Linked DNA regions of Homo sapiens: region 2 is linked to region 1. Evidence: fine-mapped expression QTL. A gene starts in region 1. The other region holds a variant in brackets. All regions are shown on one strand. Distances are between the middles of the regions.

Region 1 (5,384 bases):
CTATTATTGTGTTTTTCCTTCTATCCATTTTTTAATCCTATAAATTGTCTTCTAAACTTCAGTTTGATTATCCAACACTTCATTAACCGTTCTCTGCTTATTAACATTTAAAAAAATCAATATTTATTGTGTTTAAATTTATATTCTATTCCAAACATTATTAAGCACACATACAAACATGTAAAAGAACATAACTCCCCTTAGTATTTCAACTTTCCATTAAAATGCAAATGTAATGATTTCATTAGCCAGGCAACAATACCCACAGTATCACACCAAACCAAACCAATGTCTTTTCTCTGTGAATCCCAACTTCCCTTAAGATACAATCTTATTCCTATGATGGATCATTTGTTGATGAATATCTTTGAATTTGGGTTTCCCATTATAATCCCTGACTGAAGGGGAAAAAGCACAATGTGTGATTTGAGATATTAAATTCATGAATGTATTCCACTCCCTAGACACGTAAATATATAAATATTTCACTAAATTTTATGCACTAAATTTTACCGCTGGAAAATAAGCCTTTTCTCAATTCTTAAACATTAGATGAAGAAGGGAGAACTCCCTCAATGTAATTAAAAGTATATCATGAGGGGAATAACCAGCAAATAACACTTATATTTCATTTTCGGCCTTTCCAGGAGTCTATCCAGGCCACACTTCATTATGTCATAGGTAGAAAACTCTCCATACAAACCCTATTAGCTTAATAAAACTAGACAAGCAGTCCCAGTGAAAAGATTCAGCAAGATGCGAGTGAGGTGTGTGTGTGTGTGTGTGTGTGTATGTGTATGAGAGAGAGAGAAGAAAGAGTAGAGAGGAGACACAGAGAGAAAGGCAGAGAGATGAAAGACCAAAGAGAGAAGCCAAAGAGAAATTTGGATGGGACTGTTATAAATCTGCTCTTCACTTCTTTGCTGGGATTGGGTTTCATTTCTTTAGGCGCCCCTGACCTTGCAGTCTTGCAACTCCAACGCTGCGCTCCCCACCCCCTCCCGCCCCCTCCCCGGGCCTGCGCCTGCCTTTGTGTCTGCCTGTCACTTACCAAGGAACCAAACGAAGCTGATTCGGGAGAAGCACAAAGCCGGGACACAGATTTGTCCATAAATTCTCTTACATACATTCCCCAGGCTGGAAGGCTCAGCCCAGCGCTGACTTATGTACCTTGAGAAAAGTGAGTTCTGGTCTTGTTTGGGGAACCAGAGAAACTATTCTTTCCTCTTTCACTCAGCGCCGCTAACAAAACGCGCGGACTTAAGGAAAAAAAAAACCCACTCAGTGTACTCCAATTCCACTCCCTGTGACATTCACTTCGTACAGCCCCCTAAAGGGGGATAAGAAGGTAGGAGGAGGCAGACACAAACCCAGACCCAGACCCTACAGCTGATAAAAGGGTCGAAAAACACCCTATCAGTGTTCTCTCTGAGGTTGTTCAGGATAAACGGGAGACTCGTTTCACTTACACGAAAGAAACAGGGGAAGAGGATTAAAGGGAAAAGTAGTGCCCCCAAAGCTGAACTATTTTAGAAAGGAAAGCAAATTTAAAAATCACTTTTCTGAGGATTAAAAAAGGCCGGGAAACCGGCTCGTCGGAGGCACAAAGGTAAGTTTTCTGGGAGATGAGGGGACGAGCATTAGGAGGAGAGAAGAGAACACAGAACTACAGGTTTAAAAGGGGTAGAGGGAATTAAAACTATATTTGTCAGCCATGTTGAAGAGGCTCCAGTAATTTGTGAAGCTTCCCTCTTCCCTCTTGGTATTTGTGGGTGACACTACAGGGTTTGCTCCCCAGTCCCTGGAAGCCCGAGAAAAAGCGAAGGGGAGAAGAAAGGGAGAGTTTCGCGGCATAAGAGAAGCGCTCTGACCTCGTTCTCGTCCCTCAGCCTTGCAGCAATCCAGCAGTTGCAGTCGGGTCTCCTTTCTAACAAATCCTAAAGGGCAGCCATCTTGCTTCCTTCTGCTTCTCTACGAAAGCAGCCTAGCCTCCGCATCAATATTCATAAGGCAGTTTGACGTCTGTTCTCATCACTCAGCGGGGCCGGCGTCTCGGGGCGGCCGCGCCGAGGGGGCGGACGTGACTTGCATGCGAGCGGGACCCGGGCGCGCGGCGCTCGCGAGGAGGCGGCGGCGGCCGCCCAAGCTCTCGCCGCTGCCACTGCCGCTACCGCCGGCTCTCCTCCTCCGCCCGGGCCTCCTCCTGCTCCGCCCCGGCCTCCTCCCGCTCCGCCCCGGCCTGCGCCGCCGCCCTGGGGCCCTCAGCCCCGGCTCCCAGGGAATTAGCCCCCCGCACCGGGCGTCCAGCACAAAGGCCGGCGGCACCTGGGGCCGTACAGCGGGGCGCGCAGTGGAGACCTGGGCTGCCCTCACGCCGTGCAGTGGCGCGGGGGGAGTGGTGCGCCCGGACCAGCGCGGAGTAGGGGCCAGGGCTGGCGAGCGCGGGGAAGGGTGCAGCCCTCGGGAACCCCGGGGACCTCGGCGGGTCTCCACCCCTGGGAGAAGAAGCAGAGCAAGCGCGAAGGTTGGGGGCGAGGTGGGAGGTTGGGATGGCACGGGTGCCTGGACAAAGACGTGACATCTAAGATTTCCCTTTGAAACTTTTTGCTGGTCTGCACTCCACCACCACTTCGAGGTCCCGCGCACACGCCCCCGCGCGCACCCACCTCCTCCGGAGTGTACCCGCACGTGCCCTCGCTCTGGCCCCCGCCTCCACCCACTGGCACCTCTCCCCGCACCACACCTCCGCTTGCGCCCACCTTACCCTCAGAGGCCCGCGTCTCTATCTCCCTTTAGATCCCGTTGCCCGCGCTCTCCTTTCCCTTTTCTGTCGCTTTAATCTCATTCAGCAGAAGCGCTCCCCTGTTTCACCGAGGGCATGCCCTTAGTGCTTTAGGGGCCTGTATTTTTAAAGACCCGACAAACTGGGAAATTGACCGAGTTCTGTTTCTCCCCGCCCCGGCCCACCTTCTGTTTACTTTAGCCACGTGGGCTGAGTAGAAGGGGGCGTCTCACAGATTGAAATAGGTTTCTCACTAGTGACCCCCTACTTCTCGCTAGGAGGAAATAAACCTGCACTTTCAAATGCTTAAGTTGCCTCTCGTAAGAGCCCTTACTTTGAAGTAGTTTCCCCCCGTACAATTAAGTAATGAAGAAACCGACCGATACAGAGCTAATTCCGAATGACGGATGCTTGATTTTCCCTGACATTCGGAGCTCTGTAACTATGCTCTTCCTTTGACCGGAGTTTTTCTCTATTGCCGAGTAGTGTTACTTCCCCCTTCTAATGCTCCTTTTTCTAATCATCAACTTTTTATTTGAAGATGAGATGAAGAACAAAGCCCATATGAGTCATAGTAAGTATCATATTACGTCAGATAGTCGTTTTTGAAATATTCCCTTCATCTTTTACATGTTCTTACATGACTGACGTTCAAATTTTAAGTGGGTATTTTGGTCACATCTTTTATGGGATCACTGCATGGTGATCACAGTACCCTTAAGTCAATACTAGTTATATTGTGTAACCACACTTTTTTTGGTCTGTAATTTTTTTTAAAAGCGAAGCCCTAATTTTACGAAATCGGAATATTTCCTCTTTGAAGAGTGTGAAAAAGGGAACTCCTTGCAAGTGTCGCATTGTTGCTAAGAAGAATGTTTAGTGGGTCCAATCAAACTTTGTTTATTCCATTTTGAAACAAAGTTGACTCAGATTTCAGATTTTGCACAAACTAAGGAAATAGTACATTTTCCCTTAAACATTTCAGGTGGGAATGACATTCCATGTTTTCTAGCTGTACACTAAAGCGTCACTTAGGTCTTGGAAATTGTTAATGCACTTTAAAATCTAAGCTGTTTGAAAGTTCTTTGTGATCTTTATTTCTTTCTTTCTTTTCTTTCCTTTTCTTTCTTTCTTGAGACAGCCTCTCTCTGTCACCCAGGCTGGAGTGCAGTGGCGCGATCTCGGCTCACTGCAACCTCGGCCTTCCGGGTTCAAGCGATTCTTCTGCCTCAGCCTCCGGAGTAGCTGGGACTACAGGCGTGCGCCACCACGCCCAGCTATTTTTTGTATTTTTAATAGAGACGGGGTTTCACCATATTGGCCAGGCTGGTCTGGAACTCCTGACCTCCCAGAGTGCTGGGATTACAGGCGTGAGCCACCGCGCCCGGCTTGTGATGTATTTTTCAAGTCCAGGAAATAAAGTTCTCTCAAGACCACAACATACATTTATACAGTGCACAGTATTGCAGAGTTGTTGAAACATGGGCTTTGGAGTTTTACAGAGCTGAGTGACTCTTAACTCTATCTTTTCCAGTGTGACCTTGTGCATTTTACTTAACTCTCTCGGTATCGGTTTCTTTCAATCTGTTCAACAACCTGTAAGACAGCAGAGTTGTGGTGAGTTTTTAATAAGAGCACTAGGTAAGTGCCCAGGTAGTTACTACTACTACAGTAACAAACCATTTACTTCTAGGAGTTATTTTGTTTCTGACTATAGAAGTATATAATTATATATCTTCTTACATTTAATAATATGTGGAAAATATTATATTAGCATGTGTTTAATATAAAAGTATCCGTAGGTTCCTTTAGTTATAACTGGGAAATGATCTTTCAGGTCACCTCCCTCTCATTTCTTCTTTGAAAACTGCTCTCTGTTGTAACAGGGTGTTCTTACCTATTTGGAATCATGTTTGGGTTGCAGTTGGTTTTACAACAGGCCCTGAACATTTTCTTGCCAACTTCTTTCTCTGCACCTCCACTCTACCCTTAACCATCATGACTTTTTAAAAGTTAAAATAAAATACATTACTCCTCTTGGCTATTGTGATTTTTCAACAGCAAAAGGAAGTAAAATTCTGCAGGCCTTCACGTATAAAATATTTTAGTTAGATTTTTTTTTTGATTTGAAAAACTTCCTCCTGCTATTTCTGGGAAAGAAAGGATATAGTTTGCAAATCAGTTGTTTACTGAACGCAGTGCGCACTTGTATGGGTAATTCAGAACCAGCTTTTATTAATTGTGTGCATTCTTGAGATTCCTCCTCCTACAGGTGTGGACAATCTGTGTTTAAAATATAATTTGCTGTTTTAACAACAATTAATTATCAAATTCTTTACCATTTTTTTCCTCAAACTAGAAATAGCAGCACTGCTTCCATACAGAGAGATCCTTGCTTCCTTAACAGAGAAAAAAGACTAATAGAACAAGTTCCACAACATGCTACTCTGTGTTAGAAAATTGACTTGATTGGCCTGCGCACCTGCTATCTAACTCAGTTGCTCAGTCTTTAAGTCTCAGGGTGGAGGCAGTTTCCTGTCTGCTGCTGTCCATTAAAGAGCTGATGATGGTAGTTTGCTTTACAATGCAAATTTTTTTTATG
Region 2 (5,384 bases), 39 kb before region 1:
TCAGGGTTGGAGTCAATAGGCTATTTCATTTTTCTTTTTAAAGAAATGATCAAAGAAACATTATTAAGATTAGAAGAGGGTTATTGCCTGTATATGATTAGACTCTTAAATCTGAGTTCAGCAACTGACAAACCAAATACTGAGGAAGGCAGAGGAGTTTTTACCTTCTGTTTTCTGTTTAAAATAGTAAAACAAAACTTAAAAAGTAAAAAATATAACTTTATTAAGCTTTATAGAACTTGTTTTTATCAGAATTTGAGTTGGTATCACATTTTTAACTATACCAAGGTGGTGCTTGTGGTTCTTGGAATGGTGTGAGCAGTTCTAGGGGGATTTCCCTCTCTGAGCTGGCACAAGATTGGGAGTCCTGGAGGACATGAGTGTCACTACCAGCAGTTATCTGGTTGACTGGGAATCAAGCTGGCAAACTATCAAGGAGAAACCATGAATTCTAGTTTTATATGCCCAAAACAGTCCCCTTTAGTAAAAAGAGGTGATCCCCAACAAATAGAATAGTCTCTTGCTAGAATATAGTTCCTCAGTAGCCAATAATTCTGGCTTTGTTCAGCTTTGCAAAGTCTCCAATATGATAATATTCTGATAAATACAGTGATGACTCACAGGCTTATATACATGTTTTGAAAGAGAAGCTTAATGATGCTATTTTGGATCATGAAGCCAGGCCGCGGTGGCTCATGCCTGCAATCCCAGCACTTTGGGAGGCCAAGGTGGGTGGATCACTTGAGGTCAGGAGTTTGAGACCTGCCTAGACAACATGATGAAACCCCGTCTCTACTAAAAATATAAAAATTATCCAGGCATGGTGGTGCAAGCCTGTAGTCCCAGCTACTGGGGAGGCTGAGGCGGGAGAATCGCCTCCAGGAGGCGGAGGTTGCAATAAGCTGAGATCGCACCACTGCACTCCAGCCTGGGTGACAGAGTGAGACTCCATCTCAAAAAAAAAAAAAAAAAAAAGAAAATGCAAAATACAGTCAGCTTATACACTGAGTTTTCCTTCTGCCATGATACATTGAGAGTTATAAAAAAATCACTTAGAAGATAAAACGGAACAAACATATGAAGGGTAGTGCTGAAGACAGAGGTTAAGATAAGGGCCATGAAGGGGGTTAAAGAAAAATCTAAGCCGATGAGCACATTTAAATGTTCTCATTCCCACACACATATCTACTGTTGTTTTTGTTTTTTTGTTTGTTTTCTTGAGACAGGGTCTTGCTCTGTCACCCAGGCTCAAGTGCAGTGGCACGATCTCGGCTCACTGCAGCACTGACCTCCCAGACTCAAGCTATCCTTCCATCTCAGTCTCCCAAGTGGCTAGGACTACAGGCATGTACCACCACACCCAGCACATTTTTTGTTTATTTTTTGTAGAGATGAGGTCTCACTATGTTGCCCAGGCAGGTCTCAAACTCCTAACCTCAAGTGATCCACCTGCGTCAACCTTCCAAAGTGCTGGGATTACAGGTGTGAGCCACCACGCCCAGCCATATCTACATTTTTAATTGAATAAAATACACTTCACCATCAAAGTTGCAATCATTTTGAGCATAATATCATTCCTAAACATATTTTCCTTTGTTCCCTAAATTGAAGCCTATTCTATTTTATCTTTATAAACTATTCACTGTTCTATTTTTATTTTTTATTTTTTAGAGACAGAGTCTTGCTCTGTAGCCCAGGCTGGAGTGCAGTGGTGCGATCTTGGCTCACTGCAAGCTCCGCCTCCCCGGTTCACGCCATTCTCCTGCCTCAGCCTCCTGAGTAGCTGGGATTACAGGCGCATGCCCCCACGCCTGGCTAATTTTTGTATTTTTAGTAGAGACGGGATTTCACCGTGTTAGCCAGGATGGTCTCGATCTCCTGACCTCGTGATCCGCATACCTCGGCCTCCGAAAGTGCTGGGATTACAGGCATGAGCCACTGCGCCTGGTCTCACTGTGTTTTAGAAAGGTATTATCTACTTTATCTGCAATATTTTCCAAATAGATTTAGAAAAAAAAGACAATAAAAATAGCTAAAATTTATTGAATGGATTCTAAGTCATCTAATTTTCAAAATACTATCAGTTGTTTACCTTAGCACACCCTTTGTGGGTGGCAGGGCCTCCAGAGCCTGTGCTCTTATTCAACATGCTTCATGGCCTCCACAAGCTTGTAGGAGATTCAGTGAAACATTTCATTTTGGGGAAAGGTAAATAATTCTACATTTCAAAGCCTAGAGACAGACAAGTTTTC[G/T]TTCAAAAATGAAGGAAAAAAAAAAACCTCTTCTCTAAAAACCAGTCACTCTACCTATAAACATGAATATATCATTACAAGCTAGGCACCTTATATAAGAATCCTCCATTTGGGGTTTAAATGCATTTTCCTTTCAAGAGATAGATCCACCATTGATCAAACATCATCAAACACTTCCGTTACAAAAAAGGGACTTTGTTTATCATGCTGAATTTAGTCCTTCCCTTCCCTTTGTGATATTAGTACACCTTCATGGCATGTTTCTTCAAAGCCCCAGTAATAGATGTTTCCTTCCTGTTGAAATGCTGCTTTGGCTGCTTCTGTGCTTGATGTGGTTCTCCTCCAGGTTTAAATGGGATGAGACTGGAGTTCACTAATCAGCACGTTACTCACCTCAGCAGGATATGCCCACAAAGTGTTTCTCCTATTCTTATACACATGAGTACACACATAAATACACACACACACACACACACCTCTCTGCAAGTAAATGATTCCAACTGTACAGTGCCTAAAGGGAAGTGCTATTTCAGAATGTCAGCTACTTGGCAGTGATGGCTATTCTCCTGTTAATGCTTTAAAAAACCACTACAGTAGTCAAAGTTTTAAGAAGAAAATTAAAGACCTTAAATGTATTCACTTCCTGCTCCTCCTAACATAGACAAAGTGGTGACTCCCAGTAAAGAACTCAGTGTTTGCAGAACAAATTCCATGAAGATAAAAACAAGCATACACCATATGAGGTTGTTTCTAATTAACAGTCTTTATATAACTACGATAGCCAAACAAGGCTGAAATATCAACCACCAGTTATAAACAATTTAACATAGTATTTCCATTATACAAAGTGATTATTTAAGAACCAAACACTGGAACATGAGAGGTACAGGTATAAATTCACAAGGCATTGTGTATAGATTATCAGATCAATTTATATAGTTTCCGAAAATAAAAAGAAGTTATGAGGGAATATTTTTTAAAATAATAGATATTTTTAAAAACCAAGATGGAAAACATTTCAGAAGAAAATACCCTATAAACATCACACAGAAAATGCAAAAAAAAATTCTGCATCTGAAACACAAACTTTTCACGACATTCTGACACTGGCTAATACTTGACCTCACTGGTCAGAGACTGGGCCAATGAAGGATGTGCTCAAAATCTTAACTTTGAAAAGCCTCTTAAGGGTATGGTTTATTTTTCATCCACTAAAATAGAAAATATAATTCTCTACAATAGACTTACCATTCCTAACATCCAGGCATTTTAGAGATCCCCGCTAGAAATTTCAAGTAGTATAGGAGAAGAAAGGAGTGAAAGGGGAAGAAAGGGGCAAAGAAAGGTAACTTGCATTGATTTTGATGCTTTAATAGTCATTTTCTTTTTCTTCACACAAGGAACTTCAGGTATTTGTGATTGTATTTGCGCGGCTGACTACAGGGCAATAATTCTATTGGGAGCTAGGTTTTTAGCTGAATCTCAGAATGTCTCTCCTGTAACTTCCATAAACCCACAGGCAAACTAAGGGGGTAGGCTGTAGAAGAGATAACAAAGTATAAATTAATCTTGGGTTCTAATTCTGACTCTAATCCTCCATAAATTCATGATCTTGAGCCGATCACTTAGGGAAACTGAGGACTAGAGAGCCTATAAGATGTTAAATTGTATTATTTCTGTTCCAACCCAGCTTTAAGGTTTTATGATTCCATGATTTAGATACTATCGAATTTGAGATAAAAAATATATATAGGAAAAAGAGTTATTGAAATGAATAGGTATAAAAACACAAGCAAAATTATATTAATGGAATTATTCTAAGTCTACTTGTGTGATATTAAGTTTATAAAAGGATATCCCTTACATTGTAATATATAACTATAATTGATAGCCACAATACTTATTATTGATTCCAAAGCAATTTTTACAATATATATTCTATTCCTTATATTTAGTAATTTAATATTACAAAATGATGTAATGGTTTCTGGGGAGTAATGAGTCTACTACCATGGTTCTCTTAGACTGAACTGCTAATTGCATCCATTTAAAACAGCCACAGATTGAGGATCAATAAACTGGTAGACTTTAAGTGCTTTTTAAAAACTGCTTCCAATCTATAGCATTAACCCAGATATTTTAAAAATGATTTTATTTTTCGTATTTTGGGGGGATAAGTATTAGGTATACATGAACCCTACCTTACAATTTCTTCAAAATGGATGGAAAGAATGAATTTTTAAATCACTTATGTCATAAATTATTTATAGCCCAAATATCTTCATCTAAGGATGCTTTAAGTCATATGACCTATATGAGCTAAGGTTTAAAGACATTACATTAATATCATGAATATAAACATCAAAGGATCAATTATAAAAATTCTAATGCTTAATGGGATGGCAAACTACAAAATAAAATTTTACACTATAGTATAAAGCTGCTGACATTTGATCAGTCACTATTTTTAAAAAAATTCCTTCAGTAACAATATTCTCTAATGTTCATTCTAAAAATTGAAACAAGGAAATTTTTATCTAATCTATTTCTAATAGAAAGGCAAATAAAAAATACTTTTTTAAAGATTTCAAAACGTATAGGAAAACTCTGCAGTTATGTTTACCTGGTTTGTTAAAAACAAACTATGCATTCTGCAAAATTGCAAGTGTCTACTTTTATCATAAGGTAATCTTAAAAGTAGTTTAGTAAACATCAAGTTACGACAAGTAGACGTCTCCCTTACCACACAGGAGTGATAATCAAAATATTTAACAGCTCATATGTCCAGGCATGAGACATAGTGCTGGAGGAGGATCCTAGAGGAACCTACATGCCATTTATTATTCTAGCTGCAGGATGGTGGGTAGACCCAGGGAGTAATGGGGAAGGAGCTATAGTGGCTTAGGGTAGCAGAATTACTAGCTACCTTGGAAATCTTTCAGTAACCATCAGCACAGCCACACTCATGTGCACCTGCTGCCTATCAGCTCTGGTTGTTTGCATGATTCTTAAATAAGGGATAAAAAAGTATTAAGCAACTGTTACAAGTCTTTGCAAATTACCATTTGTCACTGGAAAAAAATGTAACTATTAACTTTGGTTGTAGCCAGAGAACAAATGATAGGGAAAATT

Evidence for each region. PIP is the estimated chance that this variant, and not a neighbour inherited with it, causes the effect.
Region 2: its variant is the best candidate, but not a certain one, in a credible set for the expression of TET2 in whole blood (INTERVAL, PIP 0.60).

What each region holds. Positions count from the first base shown.
Region 1 is chr4:105,143,467-105,148,850 of GRCh38, reverse strand. It overlaps TET2 (tet methylcytosine dioxygenase 2), which reads right to left and starts at 1,975. Exons shown (of 11, transcript NM_001127208.3): 1 at 1,872-1,975. LOC124900868 reads left to right here. Exons shown (of 3, transcript XM_047416559.1): 2 at 1,890-3,356. The coding sequence ends at 2,578. RefSeq lists silencers at 1,001-1,070, 2,034-2,713 and enhancers at 1,401-1,450, 1,794-1,963, 5,108-5,384.
Region 2 is chr4:105,182,065-105,187,448 of GRCh38, reverse strand. The region is part of intron 1 of TET2 (tet methylcytosine dioxygenase 2); the gene reads right to left. All of the region lies in intron 2 of TET2-AS1 (TET2 antisense RNA 1), which reads left to right. Among named protein-coding and RNA genes, the nearest start is that of TET2, 38 kb to the right of the region's middle. The variant G/T (reference allele first, on the strand shown) is at 2,253.